Linked DNA regions of Homo sapiens. The protein of the gene in region 2 interacts with the protein of the main gene of each other region in a pairwise test. Each region holds a gene or a part of one and is shown on either strand. Other genes may lie near its edges.

What was found.
Region 1: the proteins of TRAF3IP1 (region 2) and FRMD4A interact in a two-hybrid assay, tested with the Homo sapiens proteins (2 studies listed by BioGRID and IntAct).
Region 3: the proteins of TRAF3IP1 (region 2) and SNAP91 interact in a two-hybrid assay, tested with the Homo sapiens proteins (2 studies listed by BioGRID and IntAct).
Region 4: the proteins of TRAF3IP1 (region 2) and DMD interact in a two-hybrid assay, tested with the Homo sapiens proteins (2 studies listed by BioGRID and IntAct).

What each region holds. Positions count from the first base shown.
Region 1 is NC_000010.11:13,654,935-13,663,728, forward strand, and holds part of FRMD4A (FERM domain-containing protein 4A), read right to left. Parts: intron 8,576-8,794; coding exon 8,519-8,575; intron 5,620-8,518; coding exon 5,382-5,619; intron 4,557-5,381; coding exon 4,389-4,556; intron 2,589-4,388; coding exon 1,702-2,588; intron 996-1,701; exon of another isoform or gene 444-995; intron 1-443. UniProt on the Homo sapiens protein: Scaffolding protein that regulates epithelial cell polarity by connecting ARF6 activation with the PAR3 complex. Plays a redundant role with FRMD4B in epithelial polarization. May regulate MAPT secretion by activating ARF6-signaling.
Region 2 is NC_000002.12:238,350,776-238,359,569, reverse strand, and holds part of TRAF3IP1 (TRAF3-interacting protein 1), read right to left. Parts: intron 6,744-8,794; coding exon 6,620-6,743; intron 6,398-6,619; coding exon 6,361-6,397; intron 3,567-6,360; coding exon 3,490-3,566; intron 1-3,489.
Region 3 is NC_000006.12:83,599,940-83,608,733, forward strand, and holds part of SNAP91 (clathrin coat assembly protein AP180), read right to left. Parts: exon of another isoform or gene 8,494-8,794; intron 7,870-8,493; coding exon 7,760-7,869; intron 5,865-7,759; coding exon 5,746-5,864; intron 1,661-5,745; coding exon 1,646-1,660; intron 1,500-1,645; coding exon 1,332-1,499; intron 1-1,331. UniProt on the Homo sapiens protein: Adaptins are components of the adapter complexes which link clathrin to receptors in coated vesicles. Clathrin-associated protein complexes are believed to interact with the cytoplasmic tails of membrane proteins, leading to their selection and concentration.
Region 4 is NC_000023.11:31,118,145-31,123,766, forward strand, and holds the end of DMD (dystrophin), read right to left. Parts: intron 3,787-5,622; coding exon 3,775-3,786; coding exon of another isoform or gene 3,689-3,774; 3' UTR 1,078-3,688; downstream 1-1,077. UniProt on the Homo sapiens protein: Anchors the extracellular matrix to the cytoskeleton via F-actin. Ligand for dystroglycan.

The DNA.
Region 1 (8,794 bases), on a different chromosome or scaffold from region 2:
TCAGTGTGGCCCTGTTATGAAATTGTTTCTCCCCATTGTGAAGAGAGGGCATCCAGAAAGGTTCTCAGAGCCTGCTCTCTCTGCTGTTTCAGGCTTATCATTGCTACTGTAGGGCGCTTTGAAGGGAGCAGGGCTTTTAATAGCTCATCCAAACCTGACCACTACGCATTTACTGATGTAGGCAGCATGGAAGTCCAGCTGGAAAGATTTAGTAGGAAGTCAATCCTACGTAAATGCATCCTTTGCTTTTTTGGTAAAGGAATCCTTTCCATCAGTAAACCTCAGATACAGCTTAACAATTTTAGTCTAAAATATGTTCCAAAAGATCTACCTCATCTCTTTACATAAAGCAAATCTACTAGACCAGTGCTGCAGTTTTGATAGAACATAAACCCTCCTGTTTGTTGGAGATATTTACAAAACGTTGGTTCTTTATCTAATAGGGTCACAGAATGATCATACTCAAGATCTTCCTGGGGAGTCAATGGCAAATTTCACTGGGCTATTTTACAGATGAAGAAGGAACATAAAGAAGGTTCTGGGACCCCGAAGTCCACGGAACACCCACCATTACCTGATCTTTGGAGCTTGTCATTTGGCCAGTGGACCCTAATAAACGTCCACGGGGATGTGGGGATAGAATGCCAGAGCCTGGCTCGCTAGGGCATCCAGGTTCTTCCTTCCTCTTTGCCCTGCTGTCTCCAGGCACCAAGAATCTCCTACAGTTCCCCAAAGATGAACCCCCCATTATCTCAGGTCACTCTGTTTCCCCCGATCTTTACCAAATTCCTGACTCAGAGTTCCTCCCATTTGCTTCTGACTCTCATTTTATTCTTACCTCTCATTTTATTCTTATGATGTTTACCATTTCTCTTCTCCTCAGTGTCCCTCTCTGAGTGGTAAGAGTATGTTAATAAGCCAGTGCTGAGACCGGAGCACGAGGCAACTGCTCAATGTTGGTCATTGTCACTGTTATTAAATGTAACTTAAGGGAATGAGTGGTTTCTTCCTTTTTTTTTTGTTTTTTACTTGATTCAATACCGCCCAATGCTCTTGAGTATGAGAATATAAGGTAAACTTTATAGAAATTTTCAGATATAACGTCAAGGATATTTAAGACACTTAAATAATAGTTTGTGGCTATGGCATAACATCATCATCGAAATGGGAAAGCCAGGAGCAGCCAGGAATTCTGTCAAACGCACAGCTCTGGCACTGTTTATTAGCCAGTCTGCCCCCATCTGGGGAGACACTGGCCAAATCTCTAGGCTTGACCCAAGCCCATCCCCAACCCAGCTTCCTTTGCAAGCTACAGCTGTGGGCTTTCACTGGGATACTCTCCTCACTAGGGTAAAAGACACCTTTGGTTGGATAAACCCAGAGACATTACTTTTACTTTACCTAACTAACTTTCTTAGATTTCTGTCTTTACAAGGAGAAATGGGAGAGCTGGCCCAGTGCACTCTGGAGGGTCAGGTGCACGGTTATGGTGCAAGATTAGGGTTAGAACGGGGCGGGGTCAACAAAGGCCTGGAAGACCTCAAGTCTCCCGCATCTAACAGCAGCGTTCCCAGAATTAATTAATGATTCCCGTTCCTCACTGCACCCAGTCCTAAGGGTACCTTCCCCGCGGTAGCCCTTGACACCGGCAAGCAGTTCGCCCTCAGGTCTTCCCGCGTGCACCTGGCCGCCCCCTCTCACCTGACGTGGCCTTGCACATCTGGGGCATCCTGGTGACCCTGCTGTGCGCCACGAAGGTGCTCTGGGAGGAGGTGCTGTACTGCGAGCCGCTGTCCGAGGAGGTGGAGCTGGTGTGCGACAGGCGGCTGTGCTCCTTGTGCGAGGCGGTGGAACGCTGGTACCACTGGCGCAGCTCGTCTGAGACGGCGGCACGGCCCGCGCCCTTGTCGTGGGCGCCCTCGCGGCCCAGCGACGGAGTCCGCAGGATCTGCGATCGCGACGGCGTCAGGCGGCCCGTGTCGCCCTCGTCGCCGCCGCCGCCGCGCCAGCTCTCCTTGAACAGGCCGCCCGCCGTGTAGGAGTTGGACGTCTTGAACTGAGCCTTGACGCTGTAGTGGCCCTCCTGGTCGCTCTCCAGGCTGCGCACCACCACGGGCGTGGCGCCGCCCTCGATGTACAGCGGGTACTCCTTGATGCGGTACTGCGAGCTGGGCTGGCTCTGGCTGTGCAGGTACACACCGCCCCCCGCGCCCCCCGCGCCCCCCGCACCCCCGCGCGCCGCCAGGTTGGGCATGCTGCCCGAGCTGGCTGAGCCCAGTGCGCCCGCCGCCCGCTGCCGCTGCCTCTGCCTCTGGCGCGCCTTGGACGGCGAGTCCTCGGCCAGCGTGGAGTAGTTGGCGTTCATCTGCGCCGGGTAGTAGTGCTCCGAGCTCGAGTGGCTGGTGCACGACGAGCAGTCGTCCATGGGGTCTGAGCCGTTGCTGCTACGAGTCCGCGGGGTGTAGAAGTCGGGGCTCCCGGTGTCGTTTTCCGAGCCCAGGAGCTTGCCCTGGGACTCCAGGCTGGAGCTCCGGTGCCTAAAGTGCAGTGCGAGGCTGTGCAGTCGGGTGGGGCTGATGTCCACCGACCTGCCGGGAGACGACCCGGGTTGGTCTGGGGGTGGGGAGTGGGCCCAAGGAGGGGTGCTCCGGGGAGGAGGGGGTCCTGAGGAGGGCACTGGGTGTCTGCACGCGGGCGCAGGCCCCAGCCCAGCAAGCCAGAGTCTCACTCAGCAGGGCTGCCCCAGGGATCCGGGAACTGCCCATTGCGGGAGGTGAACCTGGGGTCTCCACCATGATTCCCAGTGGGAAGTGGGACTGAAGCTAGGACTCACAGAAAGGTTTCGATTTCTGGGTTTTTTTTTTTTTTTAAATAATTCTATAGACACAAAGAGAATCACAGAATCCTTAGTATCATGTTAAACCAGATAGGGCTGGGCACTGTGGTCCACGCCTGTAATCCCAGTGCTTCAGGAGGCTGAAGAATTGCTTGAGCCTGGGAATTTGAGACCATCCTGTGCAACACTGTAAGACCTCATCTCTTACAAATAAATTAGAAAATTAGCTGGGTGTAGTGTTGTACACCAGGGGTCCCAGCTAGTCAGGAGGTTGAAGAGGGAGGATCACTTGAGGATGCAGTAAGCTATGATCAAACCACTGCACTCCAGCCTGGGCAACAGGGCAAGACCCTGTCTCTCTTAAAAAAAAAAAAAAAAAAAAAAAAAGAAAACACAAACCAGATGAAATGTCCCTATTTACAGATCAGATAAAAGCAGTCCTACAGAGGCCCTTCATATTGTTTAACCAAATACTATTACATGATCCATATAAATAGACTCCCCTTTCCTGTGAAAACTGGGAAATAGAAGGTTGGTGGCAAATGAGATAATTAAACAATGAATGATGCAAATACTCACCATACCATTACTTTATAATTCATTCTGCTCGTTTGAGTCCACTCAGGGCTTAGGGAAGTGCAAAACAGTATCACATGGCAGATGATGTTGCCCGATGCTGGGACTGCATGTGAACTTCACAGCGGCCCCACGGGCCAAGCACAGGAAGAGGCGAGTCCCACTTCCGACTGCCACTCAGAAGGGGGATGAAAGCCCCCATCACGTGGCCCTCCGTGATCTGGTTTGCTTCTTTTTAGAAAAAGAAGGTGTGGCTAGGAGCGGTGGCTCACGTCTCTAATCCCAGCACTTTGGGAGGCCAAGGTGGGTGGATCACCTGAGGTCAGGAGTTCCAGACCAGCCTGGCCAACATGGTGAAACCCCGTCTCTACTAAAAAATACAAAAATTAGCCAGGCGTGGTGGTAGGTGCCTGTAATCCCACCTACTTGGGAGGCTGAGGCAGGAGAATCGCTTGAACACGGGAGGCAGAGGTTGCAGCGAGCCAAGATCGCGCCACTGTACTCCAGCCTGGGTGACAGAGCAAGACTCCATCTCAAAAAAAAAAAAAAAAAAAGAAACAGAAGGTGTGATTCACTGAAGCCTCATTTTTGCCTGGCTCTTTTGCTCTTTATGAATTTACATTTTGAGGCACTAAAGGAAGTCCAGTATAAATTTAGGCCTCAGTAGAAAGATAGAAGACCTCTTCCCATGCTAACCCAGCCAGCCTCTGTGGCCTCTGCTTTGCTTAGGAAACTTTCCATGCTCCCTGTCTCCAGAAGCCCGGGGATTCTTTGGCTGACTCCAAGTGCCCTGTGCATGGGTCTCTTGGCTAACGGGGGTTGACTGCTGCCAGCTTGGTTTTTTATTCCGCTTCATTTATCCTCCCAGGTTCAGGTCTGACTGTAGCTCATCCATTATTTGGGCCAGCTTGGGGCTGACAATGCCCAATTTTAAAAAGGAAGGCTTGGTCTGAGCAGGAAGGCCAGGCAGACTCACCTCGTGGAATGGACGTAGTGGGGACTCCGGACCCGCAGGTCTGGCGTGGACGGCATGCTGGACTGGGAGTTCCAGTGCGGGAGGCCGCGGATGGGGCTGTTCTGCAAGGAGTTGCTTCCTCCGCCGGCTTCCGCACAGCTTCCTGTGCTGGGGAAGCGCTTGTGGCTGCTGCAAAGCCAAGGATGCCACGTGGTCACCGCCAGACAGACAGCACCTTTCCTGGGGGGCTGGCTAGTTCAGGACAATGATCCCAGCATGTGGGGAAAGCTCGCCCGTGACTCCCACCTCGCTTGGTCAGACCTCTACTGTGGTTCTCAGCCTTTCCCCAGCAGGGGGTATGCCCTCCCCCCTCCCAACCTAGGCAATATGAGAGGAAAACCCTGGTCAGCCTTCTCTGTGTCAGGCAGTGTGACGGTCCTGCCCTTACAGTTTTTGTTTTCCAAGAAACAAATATTTACCTGTCCTGGCACCCCCCTTGGAGCTTGGTAGGGTGATTAAAGGAAATGGGAAAAACAGAGAAGCAGACCGAAAATGCCTTCCCCCCCAAAAAAAACCTCCCTACAAAGTCAGCCCGGTAATGAGCTGATAATACACAGCTTGGATTACAGCTGCTTGGCTGGAGAATTCTGCTGGATGAGGGGGTAGAGTTCTGAACCACTCTGCATTTGCTCCGAGTGGACTTTCACTTGCTATTTCAGAATAGCGCTGCCTGAGATTTCCTAATTAATTCCTCTGGAATTTAACAGCATTCAAACCATCTGCCATCACGTTGATTGTGGGCCAAAGCCCCAATTTCTCTGAGTCACAAAAATGTACCTCAACAGTGTCGGCAGCAGAGGGCGCTGTGAGCACGGCCCCGTGAAAGGCAAACCCCACGGGGAGGAACTAGGTTGATGTGGATTTTGTCACCGTGGATGCTACTTGGGACGGCCCTTTGATTCTTCCAGAGCATAGAGGGAGGCCTCATTTGGCCTCATTCACGATGCAGCTCACCTGGAATGGCTGTGAGAGGAGCGCTTCTTGACCTTCTCATAGGGTTCATCTAAAGAGGACTCACTCCACATTTTGGGCTTGATGGGTGACTTGTCATAGTCGTTGCGGTGATAGTGCATCTGTCGGAGTCCCTCCAGGGACTGGGGAGGAGGAGGCCTGTTGTGCGACGGTGGCCGAGGAGGGAGTCCCTTGTGAGGAGAATGTAGGGGGGATATTGTGCTGGTAACCTGAGAGTCTTCTGCACAAAGACAGGAAGAGAGGAACTGAGCCCCGGTCATCCTTCCCACAGGCTGAGACAGAACCCCTACACCCCTCCACCCGCACCTTGGAGCCACACAGCCAAACCCACACCTTCACCCCTGTGATGAGAAACCCTGAAACTCTTCCCCAGTTGCCAAGACAAGTCAAGACGAGTCAAACCAAACCAGGGCAAGCCAAACCTCCACTGCAGGCGGGATTGCATGGGAAGAGATGCGTCACTTTTGATTAGACACGAATGGAGTGAAGTCTGAACGTCATTAAATACCACCAACAAATGACTGCTTCACACTAAACAGCAAAATGTAGTTACTGCTGTAGTGCTAAGTTGTCTTTCAACAGATGCTAAGCATCTGATTCACTGTGGGAGGGTCTGAGTTCTGGGAGAGTTTTGTCTGTTTCATCTGCTGCTAGATCCTCAGCCGACACATAGTAGGTGCTTGATAACCATTGGTTGGAGAAGAAAAAATGAATGAGGGTCTATATGTCCATTGTAAATACCTGCTGGGTGGATCGGGTGTCTACTCTGCTTTTTTCCCCCAGAGCTGTGTTTATTCTCTTTTAATCTCTTCCTCTATATTTTAATTTTGAAACTGCCTTAACTTTTTTAAGGAGATGAGCTACAAAGATTATGTATTAATAAATGATTCCCTGCCTCCAGGAAAGAAATGATCTAACACGTCAGTGCGCTAGAGGACTTTCAGAAAAAGCAAATTCAGTGAGTCTAGGAGGTGCTGTGGGAGAGGCTGGTCTTGAAGGGGCTTGAGCAGTGGGCAGGCAAAGAGGAGGAGGAAGGAAGGGCTTGAACCAAAGTGTGGAGGCCCTGAGGGCAGGGTACCAGCTGCAGGCACATCTGGCCAGGCAGGGGCTGGTGAGGAGGGGCAGGGGGAGTAAGGGCAGAGCTCTGGCCAGCACAGCCGCCTTCTGTGTGCACCATGTGAGCCAAGAGCCCGACTGATGGGGGCCTGGAATTCCGAGTTGAGATTTTGAAAAGCCACAGGAAAACTTTGCGATGTCTTAAGCACGGATGCGTCGGAGTGAAAAATCCTGTTTTAGAACTATTCACCTGGCAGTGTTCTAAAACTAGAAAGGAAGGGAGAGAGACTAGAGAGGGGGATGAATGAGGACTTCAGGCTAGGGCAGGTCAGCATTGAGAAGAGAGAGGAGGGAACGATTCAGGCTTCACAGGGAAGGCAGACATGGGAGGTGGAGGGGAAAAAAGCACAGAAGCAAACCTTACAACCAACCAACTACCATTCACTTGCCCCTAAATCCATTTCCAGCGACTTGTTTCACAGCCTAATTCTCAGTCCCCCAGCCGTGGACACCCACTATGCACCCACTCCTCCTTTGCCCTCAAATCAGTAAAGGAAGAGTCCCCAGAAAGAGACCCTGCAGTGGGACTGTGGCAAAAGGATGTGCCGACACCTGTGAGGAAGTCCAGGGGTCTGCATCTGGAACACGGGGAAGAAGCTGGAATCACGGAATGATATCTCAAAATTACCCCGTGACATTACCTATTGCTCCAGGCACCCCTCTACTACCAAGGAATCTCTCAATTTTTCTTCCCTTTCCAGGGGAGACTGGGATACTCAGAGGCCAACCGCAGGGCTGGGATCTCTGATGCTCAAGCCCCCCATTTCCTTGTAGCCCAATGGCGTCCCCGGCTTGTAATGAAGCAGACAAATATATTCCAATCTGATTTCTAATAGCACAGCCAAGGTGACTGGGTAAATAATCCGCCAGACTTTCCTCACATCAAGAGCAATCATTATTATTATTGCAATTATCATTATTACTATGACTAGTGTGGACCTTTCATGCTTTCCATCTGAACAGCCACTTATCACTGCCTGCCTGAGGTTTCCATACAGGGCAAAAAAATTAACTGCCACTTAATATATTTCCATATAATTAATGTACCCGCCTCCCAGTACGATGGTTAAACATCCACAGGAGTATTCTCACATGGTTCTGGGTTTGGAATTCTTTCTTCCCCGACGTATGGTGGTGATGGGGGTTGGGGGAGGGATCAGTTCTGTTTTTTTAAGAATTTCCCAAGAAAATATCCTAACTGCCAGGTTTTAAGAGTTCAGTGGGAAATAATAAGACAGTTTTCCAGCCTGAGTGTGTATCTACTGGGATATCTCCCCTCTTACTTTCACTACTGTCTTGGGAAGCAACAGAGGGTGTGTTCCATTTCTTCTCACGATCCTTACACTCTCCTAGTGGGTTTCAATCTTTGATTTGTGATCTAAATCAATTTCTACCCTTTTCTTTTAGATACCATGAATACTCAAAAGGAAGCTATGCCTAGTGTGTAGATTCTCTGTCTAGCTAAACGTGGTTTTGGGCCAGGTATGGTGGCTCCTGCCTGTAATCCTCCCAGCACTTTGGGAGGCCGAGGTGGGTGGGTCGCTTGAACCCAGGAGCAACATGGCAAACCCAGTCTCTACAAAAAAATACAAAAATTGCCAGGTGTGGTGGCATGCTGTAGTCCCAGCTACTAGGGAGGCTGAGGTGGAAGAATCACTTGAGCCTAGGAGGCAGAGGTTGTAGTGAGCCGAGATCATACCACTGCACTCCAGCCTGGGCAATAGTGTGAGACCCTGTCTCAAAAAAAAAAAAAAAAGTTTTTGGCTTCTAAAAAAGTAAAGCACCACTCACTGATGAAAAGCTCTAATACACATGGGTTTATGCAGCACCTACCCACTCCCAACCAAAGAGGTGAATACTGGGAAATGAGAGAGCTTGCAGGGAGCCCAGCTGCCTTTTGGCCTGGCTCTTGCCTTTACACAAGGCAATCCCCAGACTACATAGAAATTCATCTCTGTTTACTCTGAGCTGTAGGTTTGTAAGCAGGAAATGCATAAACCTACCATCCTCAAGAACAAGGGCATCTGAGAGGGAGCTGTCTTCACTGGCAATGTTTCCATCTGAGAAGACAAAAAGCAATAGCCTATGAGTTCAGCACATTCCTTCAGCAAAGCCCTATCTGTAAAAATAGCATGTCTACTACCACCTCATACCTTTCTCTTCCTAACCAGAAACAACCCACCAGATACAATAAAAATGCTGTTGGGTGTTTCTTTTGTCAGTCCCCGTGGTGGGTCATTGGCTCAGCCTCCCCACCCCGACACTGCCATGTGCCCATG
Region 2 (8,794 bases):
ATAAAAACAAATAAACTATAGATACACGCTGCAACAACATGGATAAATCTCAGAATAATTATGCTGAGTAAAAACGGCCAGACTGAAAAAAAAACCTCAAAGAGTGCACATCACATGATTCCATTTAAACACAATTCTAGGAAATGCAAACTAAAGCACAGTGAACCAGAGCAGAGGGGTGGCTGCTGGGGTTGGGGCGTGGGGTAAGGGGAACATGGAGATGGGCTGGAGGATGGGCTCACCAAGGGCACATGACACTGTGGAGGGTGATGAGTGTGTTCACTATCTTGACTGTCGTTGGCATGGATGTTTGGAAACAGATGTTCATTGTACTGGGAGAATAAATTGGTACAGCCACTTTGAGGAGGAAAGTGGCCTATCTGGTGAAACTAAAGATCTGTGTACTTCCTGGCACAGCACTTCTAAGCCTGGGCATAACCCCCAAAGCTGAAATCAGTAAACTATAGCCCACAGCCTGGACCTTGTTTTTGTAAAGTACGTTTTATTGAATACAGCCACACATGCTCATTTACATGGTCTAATGCTGCGGCTGCATTCATGCCACATCGGCAGAATTCAATAGTTGCAAGAGACCATCTGGCTCAAAAAGCCTGAAGTATTTTTATCTGGCCCTTTACAGAAAGTGGCCTGATTCTTGCTGGAAGAGACACTGGCTCTTGAATGCTAGGAGGCATGGAGAGGAGCCATGGAAGCATTGTCTATGAAAGGAAATGGCTGAAAAACCTAAATGTCCATCAATAGAGTAATTAATAAGCAAATAATGGACTATAAGGCTTCAATTAAAATGAATAAACTACATCTACATGTATCAAAACATGAGAGAGAGAAACATGCTGCATGAAGAAAGCAACCTGCATAACAGATCAACACGAGGGTGACATTAGAAACTCAAAAAACACCACGAGGCACATCCAAAGTAGAGATACACACCAAGTTCATCCTGGGGACTGCCCTCGGGGGAACAGGACTGGGGCAGGGGGAAAAAGGACTTTGGCTCTTCCTACATGTTTTTTTTGAGACAGGCTTGCTCTGTCATCCAAGCTGGAGTGCAGCAGTGCAATCACAGCTCACTGCAACCTCTGCTTCCTGGGCTCAAGCGATTCTTGTGCTTCAGCCTCCTGAGTAGCTGGGACTACAAGTGTGCACCACCATGCCCAGCTAATGTTTGCATTCTTAGTAGAAAGGGGATTGGCCATGTTGGCCAGGATGATCTCAAACTCATAGCCTCAAGCAATCCGCCCACCTTGGCTTCCTAAAGTGCTGGGATTACAGGTGTAAGTCACTGCGCCTGGCCACATTTTTATTTATTTAAAAAAAAAATGTAGCAGGAGAATGGCGTGAATCCGGGAGGCGGAGCTTGCAGTGAGCCGAGATCGCGCCACTGCACTCCAGCCTGGGCAACAGAGCGAGATTCTGACTCAAAAAAAAAAAAAAATGTAACAAAAATGTTTTAAGAAGACCAACAAGTTAAATTTAAGTCTGATGTTTATCAATATCCTAAAGAAAATCATACAGACACTTGCTGATTTTCCCCTAACTGTAACATACATCAACCCTGACTTTGAAGTTCTCACTGACCACTCTTTTTCAAAACAGCAGATGTTTACCAAAAAAGGACACTTTTCCTTTCATCTTCTGAAGCCCAAAGATTTACCAATCTGAAATAATTTACTCTTCCAAGGAGACTTTGAAACACAATCCTAATATGCTTTGCGTAAAAATCATAGCTATAAAATTGAAACCAATGGAGGCTTCAAAGGTGACCTCCACTAGGAGCCTGGAGGGACACATTCAGGGTTTTCGACTGGGTCTCAGAAATACCACCAGGGACACCAGGACAACCCCTCATGCATACAGAAAGGACTATAATGTATTAACATTCCATCAATGAAAAAACAAACTGCAGAAGGCATTTCTCCTTTCAGCAAGGCAAACAGTGGTGCTGTCAGCAAAGCCTCCGCCGACAACATTCTCCAGTTATTATTGTTAAAAGGGCTCCCTCTACTGTTAGTCTCAATTGCACAGTTCTCATTGGCTATTTCAGGCCCTAGCTTTGTGACAAACTAGGACATGTTAAGCAAAATTATCTAAAACAACCATTAATTCAGCTGGGGAGAAATACATATATGTGTGCATGTGTGTGTACGTATGTGTGCACACATCCCTATATATAAAACTTTTTTAAATTGTTGAGTTATTAGGCTAAATATCCAAGAAACTTCTGTTTAAAAGAAAAAAAAAATTCTTCTTCCTCTTTAAAGTGACTGTAAGAGAAACCTGGCTGTGGCATTTGAGACACACCCTGTTGGCCCACAGGTGCCCGCCCTAGTGGTCATGTGCCCAAGGAAAGGGTAGTGGCTGGCAAGAGGCCACAGGTCCCAACAAAAGCACATCACACATGTGTGAGGGAGACTGCGGGGAACCAGGTACAATAGAACATGTATTTAAAAAAAAGACTTAAAAACATTCCCGGCCAGGCGCGGTGGCTCACGCCTGTAATCCCAGCACTTTGGGAGGCCAAGGTGGGTGGATCACGAGGTCAGGAGATCGAGACCATCCTGGCTAACACGGTAAAACCCCGTCTCTACTAAAAATACAAAATATTAGCTAGGAGCAGTGTCGAGCACCTGTAGTCCCAGCTACACGGGAGGCTGAGGCAGGAGAATGGCGTGAACCCGGGAGGCGGAGCTTGCAGTGAGCCGAGATCATGCCACTGCTCTCCAGCCTGGGCGACAGAGCGAGACTCTACCTCAAAAAAAAAAAAAAAAAAATTCCCAGTCTCTTACTTTGCAATCAGCCAGGATCAGGCAGCCAGCCTCCCAGTCTGCAAACAGGACCTGGGAGAAGGGATGGGCAAGGCCAGAAGGGGAGAGTCAGGGAGTCAGAGCCCAACAGGCCTTTGGCTCTTGGCTCCTGAGCTCCCCAAGTAAGCCGCTGCCCCCTCCCAAGACGGGGCTGGATACCAGGCCAGGGAAGTAGCCCCACAGAGGAAGTCCCACACTTTATATCCTCCCAACTGGGAGGAGGGAGGAATGGCTTTTTTTTTCTTTCTGAGGCAGGGTCTCACTCCGTTGCCCAGGCTGGAGTGCCGTGGCACAATCTCAATCCACTACAACCTCCACCTCCCAGGTTCAAGCGATTCTCCTGCCTCAGCCCCCCAAGTAGCTGGGACTACAGGCATGCGCCACCACACCCGGGTAATTTTTGTATTTTTTGTAAAGACAGGGTTTCACCATGTTGCCCAGGCTGGTCTCGAACTCCTGGGCTCAGGTAAGCTGTCTGCGCTGGCCTCCCAAGGTGCTGGGATTGCAGGCGTGAGCCACCATGCCTGGCCAGGAATGGCATTTAAATATGCAAACAGACATCACTGATAATGGTAATATTGAAAGATGCTCCAACTTGTAAAAGTCTGTAAATGCATGAAACAGACTGCTAAAATGCCAGTGTTTATGGAAATCATTCCATTACCTTCTCCCCAGGTTTGGGTGACTGCTGCAATTTCTCATAATCTTTCTTCGTCTCCAAAATTTTTTTCACAAGTCCACCTGTTGAAAAATCAGTGATTTTATGTTAAAAGTTTATTCTCTATCCCAAAAACCTATTCTAAATGGGTGGGATGGTGGGAAAAACACTAAGTTTTTATCCTATCTCTTTTTATGCTGAAACAGTTTCAAATAATCTTTATTTGTTAAGGAGATAGTACACAAGAGTGATAGACAGCTGGTAGTGGAAATTATCACATTTCAAAGTGTTTCAGGGAAATCAGCTCCTTGAAAAGTAAAAAGCTTTAGAAATAAAATAGATTTTCTATTTTCAAAGATTAAGAAGGAGTGTAGATTGACATCCAAAAATATAGCCATTTATTACAAACAGAAATAACAAGAAATGCTTCTAAGTACGGATACTTCTTTTACACTGGGGCAAGACTATTCCACTTCTTTCAGAATTTACTCATGGGATAAATATCATGTGAAGTTTTTTGGAATAGTGTTTCACCCAAGCATACATCAGCCCGAGGCTGACTGAATAAACGAGGGTACGTCCACACGGTGGAGGACGACGTGGCTATGAAGGAAATGAGGATGGTTTCTCTGCATTGCTGCAAAATGAAAGCCTGCATCTGCTGTCAAATTAAAAAGAGCAAGATGGAAATAAGTGTAGGTATCAGTAAATACACATGCACATGCATATGCATTTATTTATTTGTTTGTTTTTCAAATGTAAGTATAAGCCCTATTTTACTGTTACCTACAGGGAGAGGGAGAGTAGAGGGTAGAGGAGACAGGGAGAGTAGAGGGTAGAGGAGACAGGGAGAGTAGAGGGTAGAGAAGACGGGTCAAAGCCCCACATTTCTGATTATACCTGGTTTTGTACATCTGACCTTAAAATCATGCGAATTATCTTACATTAAAAAGGTAAACAACACTAATGCCTAAAGGTTGAATGCAAAATGAAATAAACTTAGTGATATCCAATTGGCAAGCATGCGCCACTAGAGAATTGTTTCACAACTTTAAAACAGGGTAACTGACTGTACATCCCTAATAGGATATACCCAACAAACAGGCAGACATACCTACCAAAAAAAAAAAAGTCCTTGGGCTGGGCTTGGTGGCTCACACCTGTAATACCAGCGCTTTGGGAGGCCAAGGGGGCCGATCACAAGGTCAGGAGTTCGAGACCAGCCTGGCCAACATGGTGAAACCCCGTCTCTACTAAAAATACAAAAAAATAACTGGGTGTGGTGGTGGGCGCCTGTAATCCCAGTTACTCAGGAGGCTGAGGCAGGAGAATCTTTTGACCCCGGGAGGCAGAGGTTGCAGTGAGCCAAGATCGCGCCACTGCACTCCAGCCTGGGCGACAGGGCGAGACTCCATGTCAAAAATAAATACATAAATAAAAATAAATAAAATAAAATAAAATAAAATCCTTCAGCGTTTCCAGTAATCCTATTGTTGTTAAAAACCAGTCGTGGTGTTCTAAAATTGCTATGTGAGCATATGAAGGATCATAAAGCATGGGGACAGCCGCTGCTGCTGGGAGCCAGGCTTTTTGGCATGAGATGGAAGAGATGCATATATAAAACCAAAGAATGCAGGCAAAACCCTACAATCCTAAATCGGAATTGGAAATATCATCACTAAGTCAGAATATACTTTCTTATTTTAAAAAAGTATATCCCTGCTTTTGCAGTGAAAATGCCTGGAAACAAGAAGCAACCCAGAGCAGTAAGCGGCCAGGTGCCTTGGAGAAATGAGGCAGTTATGGGGCAGGAAGTACACAAAATAAGCTGGAAACACCTTGTCGTATCAGAAAACAAGGAAGCTAAAGAGTGTACTGGGATGTGTCTAAAGGCCCCCAGAAAATAACTCCAATAGGCTCCCCTGGTCAAATACTGGGCAATCTGAACATTAATAAGAAAAACTGAGATGGGCTGAAATGAAACACATCCACTATGTTAAAAATCCGTGACTAGGCTGGGCACAGTGGCCCATGCCTGTAATCCCAGCACTTTGGGAGGCCAAGGCGGGTGGATCACTTGAGGTTAGAAATTGGAGACCAGCCTGGCCAACGTAGCGAAAACCTGTCTCTACTAAAAATACAAAAATTGGCCAGGCATAGTGGTGCACGCCTGTAGTCCCAGCTACTTGTGAGGCTGAGGCACGAGAATCACTTCAACCCGGGAGGCAGAGGTTGCAGTAAGTTGAGATAGCACCACTGAACTCCAGCCTGGGTGACAGGGCAAGACTCCGCCTCAAATAAAAAAGGGTGGCTTCATATAGATACCAAAAAAAACCCCAAACCCCCAAAACCAACAAGCCCTCGTTACTCACCTGTGATAGGTGCCAGGAAACAAAGTCATATTGTGAGAACAGATCTATAAAGGAAAGTACTCAGCCTGCCTCTTCTGCAGAAACTGTGTTCCAGGATACTCAAACCCTGGTGTGGGGAACGGGGTTTGCACTACTGAGTTGTCCAGCTAGAAAACCAACAATAACATTCCAGAACTAGACTTGCAAAGGGCCTCAGAGATCATCTACTTCCACAATTTAATCGTACGGAAGAGACGAGATGTCATCTGCAGGACAGTTGCCAGTGAGTTTCCAGCTTCCAACTGTGCCCTCCCCCTCCTCTAAGGATGGGGAGCAGCAGCCATCGCCTTAAGAGTAATCCATGCCCGCAGGGTCCTATGTACCACCAGTGTGATCCCGCCAGTGTGACCCAGACCAGAACCTGGCACACAACAGTCCCTTGCACTGGATCCTTCCAGGCCCACGTGGAGAAGGTGCATGAGCACACACACATGGACATACATGCACACTCGTGCCCAGGACTCACCATGCTTCTCCTCTTCTTCTAGTTCCACTGCTGTTACCTGAGCAGGAAAGGAAGGGGGAAAAAGAAGATTCAGGCTTGTTGAATTTTAAAGATCATGCTTCTGTGGATCTCAAAAAAAGAACAACAAAATTAACGAAGGTAGAAAACTAACTGAAAAATTACAGGACATTTTTGTCTACATAAATCTAAAAGCTAGACTATTAATCTCAATGAAGGTAAAACATTATTATTAAAAAACATCATATTTCGGTTAACTAACCATTTCAATTTCTGACATTTCAGAGAGCTGAGGGGCAGCTTCCACCACAAATTGATCATCCTCTTCATTGTCAGAATTGTGTGACTCTGTAATCACATTTGAAACGGTTTTACCACTCCCTGACCTAAATAAAAAGAAATTAGATTAAATTAGAATTACACATTTTCATCAGTCCCAAGCATCTGAAACTGTGTCAGAGGTCGGCAGAGAGGAATCTAATCACCAACCATCTCTAGCTAGAACAGCATCTCAAGCTACCCGCTGAAGCTAAGATGGACTGTCTGCAAACAGTGTCCTCTGCAAGCCCTCCAGGCCTGAGTCCCTGTGAGCCTCGCCCTCCACCCCCACCCAGCTTCCCCACGTCCCTGTGCTGCCCAGGCCTCCTGGTCCACACCTGGCCTCCCGTCCCCACAGCCTCGTCATGCCCTCTACTGCACAAAGACCCTCAGGGCCTCCGCCTCTCCCCTGACTGCGCTCTCAGTGACACCAGCCCTTCACCTGCTGCTTTCTACCTGGAGGCGCTTATTGCCCTGGGTCACAAACCTCAGGGCAGGGGCCACATTGGGGTCCCACTGACCAGGGCTGACCCCAGACCTCTCTTCACACAGCCAGCTGGAGGCCCCTCATTCAACTCCTAGTCACAGTGGCTGCCCTATGTCCCGCTCAGCACCACGTACACACTGCGCTCCACCCAAGTCCACATCATTCTGGGCAAGTCAGCGTCCAACAGCCTGGCCCTCCAGCCCCAGACCTTGTCCTCCTTGGTGACAGCCTTCACCCAAGGGCTCTCTCATGCTCTCCAGGGCCACCTACTAGAACTGCCCCACCTACAGCTGCCCCACTCCTCCTCACTCAGGCCACTGTCAGCTCACTCTGTACAAATGTGAGCCCCCGACCCAAACACTCTACAGGCTCCTTAATGGCCCCTCCTGCCTTTGTTTCTTCCCTACACACTTGTGCTTTAAGCAATCACCTAACTCCCCCTGCCCCGTTATCGCAGTGCTGCATGCGTGCACATGCATACACACACACACACACACACACGCATACACACAAGCACATGCACGCACACGCGCGCGCGCGCACACACACACACACACACACACACACACACACCAAAATCCTCCCTTGCTTCAGTGCCATGCACAAGGTCCAGAGGGAATGTAGACACTTGGGAACGACCTCTGAAAATAACACCCATTGCCCCAAACATCCTCGACTTCCTCAACTGGGTCCTTGAGACACTCAACAACCACCTGTGTGGCTCCGCCAGGACCAACCTCACTTCGAACCCGCTGCTCTGTCAGTACCAGGAAGTCCAGGCTCCCGTCCCTCGTCTCTCACGCTCCCAGCACACCCTCACTGTGGCCCACGATCCACCTCCTCAACACCTGCGCCCCTGTGCCTGCCGTGATCGGCAGGCCCTCTCTGTCCCGCCTTGCTCTCCAGGACACAGCTTCCCCACAGCCCTCAGCTGCAGCTGCTGCTCCTCCCACCGGCCTCTTGTCACGGGCCCAGAGGGAAGGTCAGTAATTTCCTTATGCTTGCTTCGGCTTCCAGATCACTCTCCCTAAAAACTGCCAACTTTAAATCTTGTCACCCTCGACCCCATCATTGCTGCCATCAGCTGCCAACCCATGGTCCCACCCAGTCCTCCTGGACCCGCCACTCTCACCAACGGTGCTCCTGTCTTACTTGTGATTTCAAGTATTGAGAAATGATCCTTCCAAAATCCTGGCCTTGGGTCCCTGAACCCTGCTGGGATGATCCCACCTCCCACACTCGACGCCCACTCCCAGGGGCACCCCTGTCACTACCACTAACAGCAAGCTCCAACCTCAAATCCAAGCGCCCCACTCCTTTACCACCACTATCTATATTCCCAGCTCACCGCCCTAGGACCTGACTCCAACAATCCTTCTATCCATCCGGCACCTTCAGCCTCTCAATCCTAATGCCTCCTCCTGACCTTCACCCCGAGGGCTCCTCCCTCACTCACTGGCATAAATCCCACATTGGTCATGACCGTGGCGCTTCCACATACTCCTACTCCTTCCCTTCTCTCTCGGTGCACTTGCTTGGCACAGCCGAGCCCTGTTTAATACAGCCTGTGCCCCCCAGTGCCTGTAGGTGTAGCCAACTGCAGCTGCAGAACAGGCCCCGCCACACCATCTT
Region 3 (8,794 bases), on a different chromosome or scaffold from region 2:
ACAACTGGCTAGCTTTTAATTATTTTGCAGAGACAAGGTCTCACTATATTGCCCAGGCTGGTCTCAAACTCCTGAGCTCAAGCAATTCTCCATCTTGGCCTCCCAAAGTACTAGTATTACAGATGTGAGCCACTGCGCCAGACCATGGGTGACTCTTTATTCAAGGGTCTGCAATCCTTTTTCTCCTACTCTTTTACAAACAGGTTTCTCCTGTTCCATAGGAATGGACAGCAAGGCAGCAGAAAATGTCTTTTGTGCAGCAGTGGCAACAAAGCTGTGTCTAGTGGAGTGCTCCTTGTCTTGGATGATGTTGGCCAACCTTAGAGACTGGAGCATGGCATGTAGCAGAGTGGTAGGTGACAGTGTGTTAAATGTATGTTCCCAGGGGTACATATTGATTACACCAAAGCCTGCCAAATCTCTCTTGCTTTCACCATTTTCTTCCTCCAATTTCTTTACCATATTCTCAAAATGCCCTAGGAAAGATGTTATATGGTAATGAAGATACACAAAACTATAATGACTATAACATCACTTGACGTATGTGTTTGATATGAGAACTTCTTTAGGTGTGGACATTGGTACCACACAGATGGGGATACATATATGAATAAACTGGCTTCACATGGCTCATCAGGTCCAGGCATATTATAGTGGGTCAGAATTTACATTTCCATGGAAAGCATATTTTTAGACAATCATTTCAAAGACTGACTTAAATCTGTTTTCAATCAGCCTTTCAAGTGCTGCTTCAGATGTTTTCTCAGAGTTCCAAAACCAAAGATGATCCAAGTTTTTATTTGGACAGAACAAACTTAAAGCTGTAAAAACAGGCACATCCCTTAACTCTCTTCAAAGGCTTCCAAACCTGAATTACTCTTAGATTATTTTTTGCCCTAAACATTAAGAAACAACTTAGGCCTGTGTTGCTCCTCCTACATTCCCCAAATATTCTCTGGGCTAGTTCTAATCTGGCCGAAAAGCTAAATAAACCTAAAGGTGACAGAGAGCTCTGGTACCACTTTTATACAGACACTGGAGAGCAGGAACCTAAAGGCAGGAGTTCTGAAGGTAGCAACATGAATTCTAATGTTAAAAAACGTGAAAATCAAATGGGCCTGATGCATTGCAATCTCTGCTATAAAATTACTAAAATTAAGTGAAGAGAAAGTTGATGAATTTAGTGAAGATAAATATACATGAATAAACATTGAAAAAGTACTTAAACACTCTGACATGCTGTTACATAACGGAAAAAATTTTAAAGACCTTAACTCCCAAGTAATTTTAGCAATCCTGAAAAAATGAAAGTAGCAGCGAGACTAACTAACCTCCAAAGAGATCCACTTCAGCAGTGACAGCAGTAACAGTTGTAGTAGTGGAGGCAGAAGCTGAGGCAGTTGCAATTTCAGCAGTTGTAGTAGGAGGGGTAGGTTCTGGTGCAAATGGATCTGAAATCTGTGCTTCAGAGGGAACAGAGGAAAGTGCAGCCAAAGAATCTATATTTCACCAGAGACAGAGAGCAAACGGAGAGAAGAAAAGCAAAGGACAAAAGATATACCAGACTCCAAATGATCAAAATAAGGACAGTTGTTACATACAGAAGTCTGTCAAAATGGAAGTTTAAAAACAAAGCTTTACTCACCCTCTCCCAAAAGGTCTACCGATGTCCATTACATGGCAGCATAAGAATAAATAAGAGCTAAAGTTGAAACATGCAACCATACCAATGTCCAAGCCAGATAAGGCACTAACTAAAAAAACCTTAGCTTTATGTGTCTTCTACACCATTTGCAATTAAAAAATAAATGTACTACCTATTATCATGGAACTTTTAAGCTAGAAGGGACCTAGAGATCCTCTAGACCAAGTTTCACCTTTAGACATGTACTTCAGATTTTATTAACAAGCAAATGGGTCACAAAACTACTTGTGCTGTAGCTAACCTTATACATGAAGATATCAGAGTCATATGATCACATAATATTGATTAGCTTTCAAATACATGTTGGTAGATAATTTTAATTCTAATAAATTCTGGCAGTAATCCCATGTTTCTCAAAAAAAGTAGAAATTTCACTTTAAGCATGTATAAAAAGAAACTGTTTTCCCATGTCTAAAATATACAGACACACAACACACACTTATTTGTGCTTCTGCAACATGAATTTACTATGAAGAAAATAAAAAACACTCTATTAGGGAGCCAAAGATGAGGATTTAAAAAATCCTCTGTATTCTTTCAGCCGATTGGGTTCATCACCAGCCTGTAGAAATGCCAAATCTTACATGCACAATTTAAATTAAATTTACTAAAATAAATTTGCTAAAATTTGGTTGCTTTACACCAACAGGAAAAAAAATGCTATCATTACAATGTGTCCCCTGAAATAAAAATGTGTGTTGGTACCTATAACCCCCAAGAAAAATTTAGAGACATTTGAAGTGGCTATGGTCCTTGGAAATGAGACCATCCAATTAGGCTTACAGAGTTTTACAGTTTATAATTTACTGCCTAGTTATACAGAATTCAAATATGCTTCAATAATAGAAGTGGCTTGATCTTATCAAACAAGATTGAGAAAACAATTTTATTTTTTTGCTTAGTCAAATAAACAAACACATATCTGTTACAATTTAGCATCACCTTCAACCATGACTGGGTATCCACCGGGCAAATTGTAGAAGTTTATTTCAATTTCTTAAAGTCTTATAATTTTTACTATTTTGCTTAGAAATTAGAGAATTTCTTTATTAGCATTTCCCCCCAAAGCTGACTTTTCTATTGCTATGAAATGTTGCAGTTGTAGATGTTTTGTTGCGGCAAAAGTGCTGTCTAATCATCAAAAGGTGAACATCAGGCCCTATAAGGTGCCTTTGTACTAATTATAAAAACGTACTCCCTGGGGCAAGGAGAAGGACAGCATTAGGACAAATGCATAATGCATGCGGGGCTTAAAACCTAGATAACTGGTTGATAGGTGCAGCAAACCACCATGGCACATGTATACCTATGTAACAAACATTCTGCATGTGTATCCCAGAACTTAAAGTTAAAAAAGAAAGAAATAAGAAAGTTTACATGGTTTTCACATATTTATCATTTTAAACAGGTTAAAGATAGTACCTTTCTTGGGTAAGTGTAGTGATGACCAGCATAGTACTTGTCACAGGAGCACTCAATCAATATTAGCTTTCATTGTAACTTGAGAGCTATCTTAGTTTTTATTGTAAAATTAATCTTATGTGTTTATCAAAAAAACTTTAACCTTATAGTCATTTAAAATAACTGAAAAAAGCATAAAAATATGCTTTTAAAATCAAACTACTATGGAAACTGCTTTACCCCAAATTTTGGCCCATTAGCTTACCTATTGGGACAACTGATGTTTAGCCATGTGAACAAGCCCCATTTTGTCAGAAATATAATTTGGATCCAACTGCCTTTTTGTGATTTTTTTTTCTTTATTTTTGAGAAAGGATCTCACTATGTTGCTCAGGCTGGACTCTTAACTACTGGGCTTAAGTGAGATTCTCATCTCAGCCTCCTCAGAAGCTACATGCATGAGCCACTGCACTCAGTTTTTTTAATCCAACTGTCTTTGGTAAATCAGTGAGTTCGTTTTACTGTCTTATGGCTAAAATTTGAAAATAAAATAAAAGCTATATTCTAAAATAAAAGCTATAATATCTTAAAAAGAAGAAAAAAAAAAGGTACTCCCTGTAGTGAGACAGATTAGAAAAAGTAAAGCATCTCTTTCTCAAGGATAATGAGAAAGGCTCACAGCGTGACTATAGAGTTCTGGCTGGATTTCAGCCCCCTTGCCCTGCCTTTGAGCAATGCATGATCTACATTGTCTGTATAGTACAGCCCTGGCTAAAACCATACTGCTCTGCTTTGTCTTTTTATGTCCAATGGTATGTTAATGTTTCAATCATCAATAGTTACATATTTCTAACTTTAAAGGCTAAAATGTATTCTAATAAAATTGGTTATTACAATCAATTCCTTACAATATTATGTGTCTTAGCAAAAAGTATTTAGAGATGAAAATGAATAAAAATGTTATATTGCAATTCAACAAAATTTCACCTTTTATTTTTTCCTTTTATTTGGCATTCTTTTAGTGCCAAAATTTTTTAAAAAAAGATAAAATTTATCTTCAGTTTCATGCCAGGGAATATGGAAAAGGGACTAGTTTACAGTTTCACTGTTTATTCATTAAAGTTCTAACAAAGACAATATGGTAATGAAAATAAATTATTAGCAAATTAAAATAATCAGTGATGAAGCTCAGAATAAAAACATGAGTAAAAAAGAATGCCCTTATAAAATCTCTTTAGCAATATTTTCCTTTACCAATAGAAATTTAATAAAGTTAAATAAAGCTGAGAGAACAATTTTATTTTAAAAATTGATAGCTGTAGCCTTAGGAGTTGAACATTTCAATATAGGATAAGGTTTACATATTTAAAATGGAAACGTGCCAACATTTTAAATGTTCTTATTTATAGTTAGCAACATTATTTCAGAACTGGTTATCTTTCTCTTATTTTTGTTACCAAAATAACTTGGAAATGAGATCAAGAGATTACAGATAGGACTTTTGATGTTATACTGACACACTGTTTAACAAGACCACCAAAGGACATTCAATTATTTAGAGAAATATAACTTCATTTGACTTAGTTATTATTGTGCACTAAAGGCTCTGATTCTCCAATGTTATGTTGTTACAGATCTTGTCTGCTAGTGATGCAAATAATCTCTGTATGGGAGAAAAGATAACCTCAAGGCTATGATTTTTATTACCCTATAGGTCATTAACAGCTTTCTATCTAACCTAGCCATCTTATTCTAACATTCCTTTTAAAATACCTATAAATACTCAGTTCCTCAAAATGTTCTTTGAGACAGCTTTATCATCTTGCTGGTTTCCTCATTAGTGAGTTACTAAGTCTTTTATTTCTGTTGCTCCTATAGTTGTACAAGGCATGTCTTAAACTTTTTGAAAATTTTATTCTGATAGTTTGGTACAGGAAGGCATGGTATTTAAAACCAACTCTTTGCAGCTTTGAGCATTATGAAGCAATTACTTTAATTTTTATATTAATATTAAATGTTTTAAATCAAATATTTATAAAAGGCTGATTTTTTTCCTGAGATCCATAAATAAAGTGGGAATCAAGTGCTTAGATGTGATTCCTCTCAGTCAATCAGTTTAAAGTATGGATTTTTCTGGTACAAATAAGAATCTGTAAAAAGATTTCAACTGTATGAAGTCAAATACAATGTGAATAAAATCAATTCAGGCCTAAAAGAATCCAGGAACGAGGCTACACCTGACCAAACCAAATTGGAAATGTTACCTTTGAGTAACCATAAATTAAGGGGAATACTCAATCCTCAAGGCCTGAGTCTCTAGAGAACAATTACTAAAAATAATCAGAATTTTAGAGTAGTAATAAAAAAGAACAACAAAAAACCCACAAAACTTCCTTGTTCCAACTGTTAAAATAAAAACTATATGACTATTTGAACATTCTCACTGTATTACAGGCACTTTCTCTGTCTCTCTCTCTCAATATATATTTCAATCAATAAATGCCATTCTTAACATTTTCCCTCCAAGTTTCTAATACCATTTTAGATAATCAAAAGGTAAATGTTAACAATTATAGCCTAAGTAAAAACAATGAAATAAAATGAATAGAGAAATGGCAAGGTTGTCTGGTTTTACTCACCTCCCCATGCAGTGGCTCCTCCAGCAGGTGGTGGTGGTGCTGGTGCTGCGGCTGCTGCTGCCCCTCCAGAGGAAAAGTCTGGCTGGAGGTCCAGGAGATCACTAGATGGTTTAGAAGTGCTGAAAGGAAAATAAAACATTAAAATCAGATTTTGAAATTTTATAACATAAAGGTGTTTTTGAATAAAGACATGCAGAAATCATCAAAGATTTTAGGTATTTTAAATCCAATAAAAGAATAATACTTTGGAAAGTATAGAGCTATAGCATATACCAAGAGTTGGCAAACTACTTTTGTCAAGGGCAAGATGGTAAGTATTTTAGACTTTGAGGGCCAGTTGGTCTCTATCATTACTTGACTCTGCTAATGTAGAATGAAATTAAGACATAGACAATACACAAACAAATCAACATGTCTTTGTTCAAATAAAACTTTATTTACAAAAACAGAGAGTGGGCTGGAGTTGATCTATGTGCAGCATTCTACAGGGAAATCAAAATCATAACCTTGAGGTTATCTTTTCTCTATTTCCTAAAATCTTTTGTATAGAAAAAAAATTCATGTCTTGAGAAGAATTTATTTATAAACCAAAGAACACTAAAGGGAATTATTAACCACTAATTTATCTTTTTCCTACGTTAGACTATAATATATCAAGTTTGCCTGTAAGAGGACTTACCTAAAACGACTACTGCATTTTTTATTTTTACTCAGTTGAGGCTGTGCTTTTCAAAGCTTCTCTGTCTGTAGAATCTCCAAGGAGCAGCCTTACTATTCAAAGTATAGGCCTCAAACTAGCAGCATCCTGGGATGTTTTTATAAATGCAAAATCTCAGGCATACCCTGTATCTACCACCTCAGAATCTTCATTTTAATAAGATGCCAAAGCAATTCACATGTACCTTCAGATTTGAGGAGCACTGGCTTAAAAGTTACCAGGCCAGGTGCCAAGCCATCAGGGTCCCAGGTTCCCCACCTGCCTTCATAAACAGCAGTTTCATCTTTATCTTTTTTTACATATTAGATTTCCAAGTAATATTCTTTTGAAGAAAGGATTCTGCTGCTTTTTAAAAAAAGTTTCAAAACCACTGAAACCATTGCTAGTTTTGATGTCCATTTCATAAATACAACTGGACTAAATACCAGGAAAGGAATACATATTTATTATTAATATCTTAAAGCTTTTGTAAGAAGCAATTTAATTAGAACAGTAATAGAAAGGAGTTGGTTATGCCAAATTTGCTATTATAAAATGCAGAACTAAGCAAGTAGAGAGTAAAGCACACAGTTAACATGGGTACAATACTTGGATTTCTTGCTCAGTTCAAAGTTCAAGTCTCCAAACATAGGGCATTCATAATCAGAGTCAAAGATACTACAAAATGATATTAGAATCCTCTTAAGGCAAATGAACTAAGGAATTGACCTAAATTTATTATTTGAGGACACACCTATGAGCTGGGGATTGATTTTAGGAGGCTAGAGATTTCAAAGAACGCACAGTCATCCCCAGATTTCTCACTACTGTTCTGATCTGTAGGTTCTATAAAAACTGATTAGGAATACCCCAAAGGCCTCCTCCTACCACCAGAGTGTGAGTTCCTCATACGCACTAGCTAATTGGTCAAACAATTCCAAGTTGGGTTGTGTGTGTGTGTGTGTGTGTGTGTGTGTGTGTGTGTTTTAAAGCATTTTAAAATACCTTTTGAATCTCCCACAAGAAGAAACTAATTTTAGAAAACACTTTCCATATCAGCCAATTTCAGAATAAATTGTGTGTATCATTCTTCCATTTCCTTTCTCAGTTTGTGACAACAAGGTGATTTCTATAGCTTAGGTCTTTCTAATGATTTAAGAGGCACAGGAGTAAAACAATGTACTTTGTGTAGTAAAAACTTCAACATTACTAGGATTAGATTTCCTTTGGTGAAATCATTTGGGTACAGCACATAAAAATAAAACCAAACTCTAATAAAATATTAATAAACAGTTAACTGCATATTTATTTACCAACCTGACTGGGACAGCCGCAGATGCAGTTGCAAATAAATCAACCGGTGGGGATGTGTCAATAGTTTTAGCTGGTGTAGAATTAGGAGACGTAACAGTTGTGGCTGGAGAAGACTGAAAGTGAAGATGCACAACACACTTGAGTCAAATATGAATCTACAGGACACAGGGCAGCAGGACTTTTCTTTGTATAACCATGACATGCCCAGCAATTTTTTTTTTGTAATTCTTTGTGGAGGAAAAAAAAACTCAATAAAATTTGAAATCAAGGATTGTAATAAATAATCAATATTGGCTAAAACATGTTACAAATTTTAAATGTAATTTATATAAAATGATAAAATATTTGGCTTAACATTGCAATGACTTCCATTCATTAATTAAAATAAAAGCTAAATGTATTTCCTGAACATAAAATTATTAGGAAAGATCTTACTAGCTGCAAAAAATTTCAAAAATTATCAATTGTAATAATTGCTAAAAAAACCAATGTCATTATTTTTTCTTGTCATCCTAAAAAGATTTCATGTGAGGTCCTCTCAGATGACCTTCAAATCCAGAAATCTAACTTGCAAAATAGTTCACAGTTGGAAGAGAACGATTCACAAGCAAGATTCAAGTCACTGATGTTTTGAAGATATCATGACTATAGCCCATCACTAAGATGACATAGATAAAACTAAAAAGGTAAAAATAAAATCTAGTATTTATTTTTCAAGAAGAGGTATTAATAGTCAATTAATATATTACAAGATTTTTATTTAGTTACTGTAACTAAACAATTTTGTCTGGTATATTTAATTCTCCATTCATTCACAAGAGAAAGATTAATGGAACATTTCAAAACAATGTATTGATACTTAGTTCTGTTAGTGGAGATGAGACATAACAGCAGGAAGATTCATGAAGACCAAGACCAAGCCAGGGCTATCAGATACTCCCCTAACTGGGCATCTGACTTCAAAGAGACCAAACATAAAGGAAGTTTTAAAAAGAATAATTTGAGGAAAAAAAAAACTGAGGAGATCAGAAATTTACA
Region 4 (5,622 bases), on a different chromosome or scaffold from region 2:
GTATCTGAACACTGTTGGGGAACCCCGCCCACCCCATCCATGAACCTTGGGAATAGGTAAAGATAGATAGCCTCTCCCTAAGAAGTGCTGACATTGCTACCCACTTTCTCAGCTTCCTTTGCAGCTAGGGCAAGAAACAGAGCAGGGCAGGGGCAAAGGAGAGGTTCTCCCCATGGTGGTGGTTGACTATGGTAAGGGATTCTTCTTCCCCAGAACCAGTTGTGAGACATCATTTTAGGTGTCTCTTTCTTACTACTCACTCATGCATCCTCTTAGATGGTGACATTAAGAATAGAAGTGATATGAAATTCTCTTGAGAAGCAAAGTATGAACTGCAAACTGACTTAATTAATATACTTGTCATTATTAAAACAAAAAACACAACAAACAAACAAACACTATGACTATCAATCAATCAATCACTGCACAAAATGTATCATCTCCCAGTCTACAAATGCTTACCCCCTTTGATCCAGCAATCTCACTTCTAGGAAGTATCCCACAGATTTGTTTGTTTATGCACAAATGAAATGATGTAATGAGAAATGTGCAATATTGTTTGTTATAGCAAAAGAAAGACTGACAACAGACTACATATCCCACCAAAGGGAACTGCTTAAATAAAATATCCTATGAACATATAATGAAATATTATACAGCTATAAAAAAGAATGAGAAAGCATTTTATATATTTAAATGAAAAGATTTCTTGAGTCCATATTTAAATTTAAACAAACAAACAAGTAAGGTGCATAACTGGGTGCAGAGAATGCTATATCCTATGAAATAATAATAGGAAAAAAATAAATAGGAACATATATATTATTTTAACTGCTTATATAATAATTAATAAAGAAAGACCCTCTGGAAGACTAAATAAGAAATTAATAATGTCTACTCATAGAGCAATGAGGATGATTGATTGATATGGGGGAAGGGGTAGTTAGGAGTGTTTTCACTGTCTTTCTGGATTATAGTTTTTTACTCATATGCATGTATTACCTATTTAAAAAGTAAGTAAGTAAGTAACAACAACTAAATTAAAATAAAAACAAAGTACTGCAGTCCAGTCAATACTTTTTTGTAACATAACTGCGTGCTTTATTGAGATACACAGTAAAGCAGTACTATAATACAATAGTAAGGCATATATTTGGTGAAGTCTGATATGTTGTGAAAATGCAGTAAAACTGAAGTTTAAAAAAATAATTCGTAAATGTTACAGTGTTGGTGTTAAAACACAATATATTATGATACTCAAGTAAGAACTCAGTACCTGAAAACAATGACAAAACATGCCATGTGATGTTTATGCTTCAGTTACATTATGATTTACAGTTTAATACTTGGTGGTTATAAAGAACACAACACGAAATAATGTCCAAATTAATTATGCTTAAAATGCAGCAATAAAGCTCTCAATTTTTGTTCAAATATTATGACAGACTCACTCCAGAGCTAATGTGTCTAAAAGAAAAACAAAAAGATTAAAACAAAATTATTTATGCACTCTATTTACCTCTGATTTTAGAATGAAACTTACTTACTTAAACTTCTTAGTAGGATGTAAAGTAACCCCTTGTTTTAAATCTGAGTTTTAAAAATCCTTGGGTAAAGAAAAGGTCCAGCGTCACATAAAGGAAAAAAATGCAAGACAAAAACCAAATCTTCATGTAATTTGGTAATTTGTTACCTTAGAGCTTTGGGTTTTCTTTTGAAAATTATGAAGGAAAAAGAAAGAATTATAAAGGAAAAAGAAAATAACGCAATGGACAAGTGGTGAAGCTGTGAACTCAGGTGTGCACAATTATCAGGAACACCCCAAAACCAAAGTGAGGTAGAAATAGCATGAGAAGCCGTGTTTGATGTTAATTAATTAATTATTAATAATGGACAAAACCCACTCTCCAAAAGCTAATTACACTTGATGTCAGCCCACTCTCCAAAAGCTAATTACACTTGATGTCAGAGGTAACAGATTTGCAAAATTATAGGTCACACGGTGGTATCTATTGAATGAATGATTTAAAAATCAAAAAGAAATAAAATGGCATGAAAGAGTAAAGCTTTTTCCTACCAGTCCTTAGCTTTTCCTCTTGAGCTTTTCTCCTCTTTTTTGAGCAATTTTTGTTTGTTTGTTTATATATTTAACCTGTCTAATCCACCAAGAAGGGTTTTTTTGTAACATTTGAATCAATTTGCCTTCTTTCTTACTTACTTACAAACCTGTGTGGAACTACTCGCAGAGAAATGCAAAGGATGGAAACACAGTTCATGGGCTTCTGGGTTGATACCTGTCAGTATCACAAATGTGATGGGGCTACTGTTTTACACCTTTTCCCAAAGTTTATTTATTTTAAATTATGTCTTGTGGCATTTAAAAACTCATCCCACATGGGACAATAAATCTAAAAAAGCAACAAAAACCAAACCACCCAGTTCCTTTTGACTGTGAGAAGAGGGCATAATAATTTAGTTGTAATTACAGAGAACTTTATGTATTATGAACAATCATCCAATCCTTCACTTAAAGAGTGGCCTACTCCTTCACAGGGATGGGCTGGGAATCCATAGCCCTCCAGCCCTATCATCGTCCTGCTACTGCTTGGGAGTTAAAAAATACCTTCTGATGTTCACAAGGTCAGAATACCTTCTGATTGATTTCCACTGAAGCATCATTAAATCTAAATCGTGGCATTGCTAGCAGCAGGAAGCTGAATGTATCAATCAATCAATCAATCAACCAACCAACCGATTACTCACTCTGATATAATAAGTCCTGTGTATTCATTCACATGTTCCCTTTAAAAAAATCCAATACTTTACTTTACTTTCGTTGTCAGTGGAAAGTTGTTTAAAATGAGAAACATCTGGAGCTGTAGACAATGTTTTAGTGTGGTGTAGTTTCCTCCTGGCTTCCGGCTCCGGGAAAAATCCATTCTAGACCAAGCAGGTAAGCCTGGATGACTGACTAGAAGTAATTTCTTTCTATTAGGATGTGACATGAACATTTAAAAAATGGAAAAAGTCAGTCTATAGAAATTCGTATCTCTTTATCTATATAACTATAGTATTTATATACTTATAGACATATAGATATATGAAATGAAAACTCAAGCCTGCCCCACTCAGCTGACAGTTCTCAAATGAGCAGTGTGTAGTAGTCATTTGGTGTGGTGGTAGAGGAAGTCTTATCTTTAATATGCAAAAAAAGAAAAAGCCATGAATTTCATATGGATATCACGCCAAAAGGATGCAAAACAATGCGCTGCCTCAAAGTTTTGTGTGTGTGTGTGTATGTGTGTGTGTGTGTGTTTGTTTTGTTTTTAGGGGTTTTTATAAACAACTTTTTTTTATAAAGCACACTTTAGTTTACAATCTTTCTTTATAACTGTTATAAATTTTTAAACAACCCAAAATGCGTTCCATATAAAGAAATGGCAAGTTATTTAGCTATCAAGATTTTACATGTAGTTTTCTTATAACTTTTTTGTACAATTGCATAGACGTGTAAAACCTGCCATTGTTAACAAAACAATAACAGACTTAGAAACTACTGAAATCTACAGTATAATACCACTACCCTTCACAAAAATATAGATTTATTTCTTGTAAACTCTTACTGTCTAATCCTCTTTGTTGTATGAATATTATAAAAACCATGCGGGAATCAGGAGTTGTAAAACATTTATTCTGCTCCTTCTTCATCTGTCATGACTGATACTAAGGACTCCATCGCTCTGCCCAAATCATCTGCCATGTGGAAAAGACTTCCTACATTGTGTCCTGGAAAACAAAGAGAAAGAAAGACAGACTTTACAAAAGGTGCAGATAGATAGCATCACTCTGTTTCTTTGCCATTTGGGAAATCATTCCCCATTTCTGGGTGAAGACAACACAGAAGCTGCATCGAGGGTGTACACAACAAGGTTTGATTTTTCACCAGTTTCCAGGAAGAAGCAAAGCCTTATTAATGAAGCCATTACACGTTGTTTGTTAGTATCAGCTTAATGTTGGATCAGGCTACTGGTGTTTACATGGAAAAATGTCAAGCTACATTCAGGTTCCCAATGTAAATATATATCAAAAGAATTCCATAGATAAGCACAAGATTTCTATCAGAACAGGAATATTCCATGATGGGATACATCTTTTCCACCTTGGCTATGAGTGATTGATTGATTACTTACTCTCTACTTGTATTAACGAACATTTTTTTTACTATCAATCAAACCACCATCACCACCTTCACAACTACCACTACCATCACCAGCACCCAACCATCGTCACCATTATCACTGCCACCATCACCGCCACACCAACTTTTCATTTCAAAGCTGTTTCAGGCTGTTGGCTTGCTTCTGAGGCTATGGTGGAGGTGGCTATTTTCTCTCTGCTTTTACTTGGGTTGAAAAATAATAATAATAAACTCTTGAATTGACCTTTTGGTGCACTATTAACATTTGAATTAGGAAACCTCAGAATAAAAATTGCTTTACATTCCAAATTACTCTAGACCCTAATTATAAGGTGACCCACATGTATTGTATGCATTTGGGTATTTTGTGAATCCATCTTAGAGCTCCTCCTAAATGAGGGTTAACTATCACAATAGCCTTTTACTAATAATGCAGCACGACCTAGCACGAATCTCCCAGCACGGAGAAAAAGAACAGCACAATGTCCCTGGGTACTTCGTAGCAAAATTCAGATTTAGAGTAAGATAATCTGAGACTTACTTTATGGCTTGCCTTTTCGTCTATGTCCCATAGTTTTACATGGCTAATTTTAATTATTGCACATTGGTAAATCCTTCCACTATTCAAGTATTGTCTTTGGAACTGAAATGCTTTACTAGGCTATTACTACCTTGCCATGTATCAACTTTACAGATTCCCATAATAATTGTTAAAAATACCAATAAAAATTAAAGATATCCCAATAAAAATTAAAGCTATAGACTAGGGAGAGTATTTTGTTTTAATATTTATTTCAAGAGATATAGCTTCTCTACAAAATGAAGCGGATTCACGGGCAGGCACTTAAACAGTGATGGCACCAGATCAACTGAAGACTTACTTATTAAAAGTTTAATGTCATTCAGGCATTTCTATTAAGGTGACCAAGTTTGTATATCTATCTTTTTGTGCTTTATTAGTGCAAAGAATTTCATGGAGTATTAATTATATTTTAGAAAATCACTTTGGATTTTGGCTGAGACTGCAAGTATAAAAATTTTTTAACAAAGCATATGCAACTATTCATAAAGTGGGCCAATAGTTTGGCAGCCCTCAGTGAAGAACTGAAATCATTTTTGGCTTTCTGTGCCATAAAAACCACAGGAAGACGACACAGTGGGGCCTTTGCTGCTCCTTAGAGCTCAGAGTACAAATATATAACTGCTGCTATCAAGTTGGAGGGCTTCCCCTGTATCTATTTTTGGCTGTCCAGCAACCCTGGGAAATCTGCATAATTATTCATGCATAAATTGAAGATAGATGGACTAACTGCCAATTTTTAATTACTAGCGATCTTTACGGTTAACAAAATCAGTAAAAACAAAGTCCAGGACCTTTACAACATGGTGCCTGAATGTAATTCGAAGTATTTCTCATGGCCCAC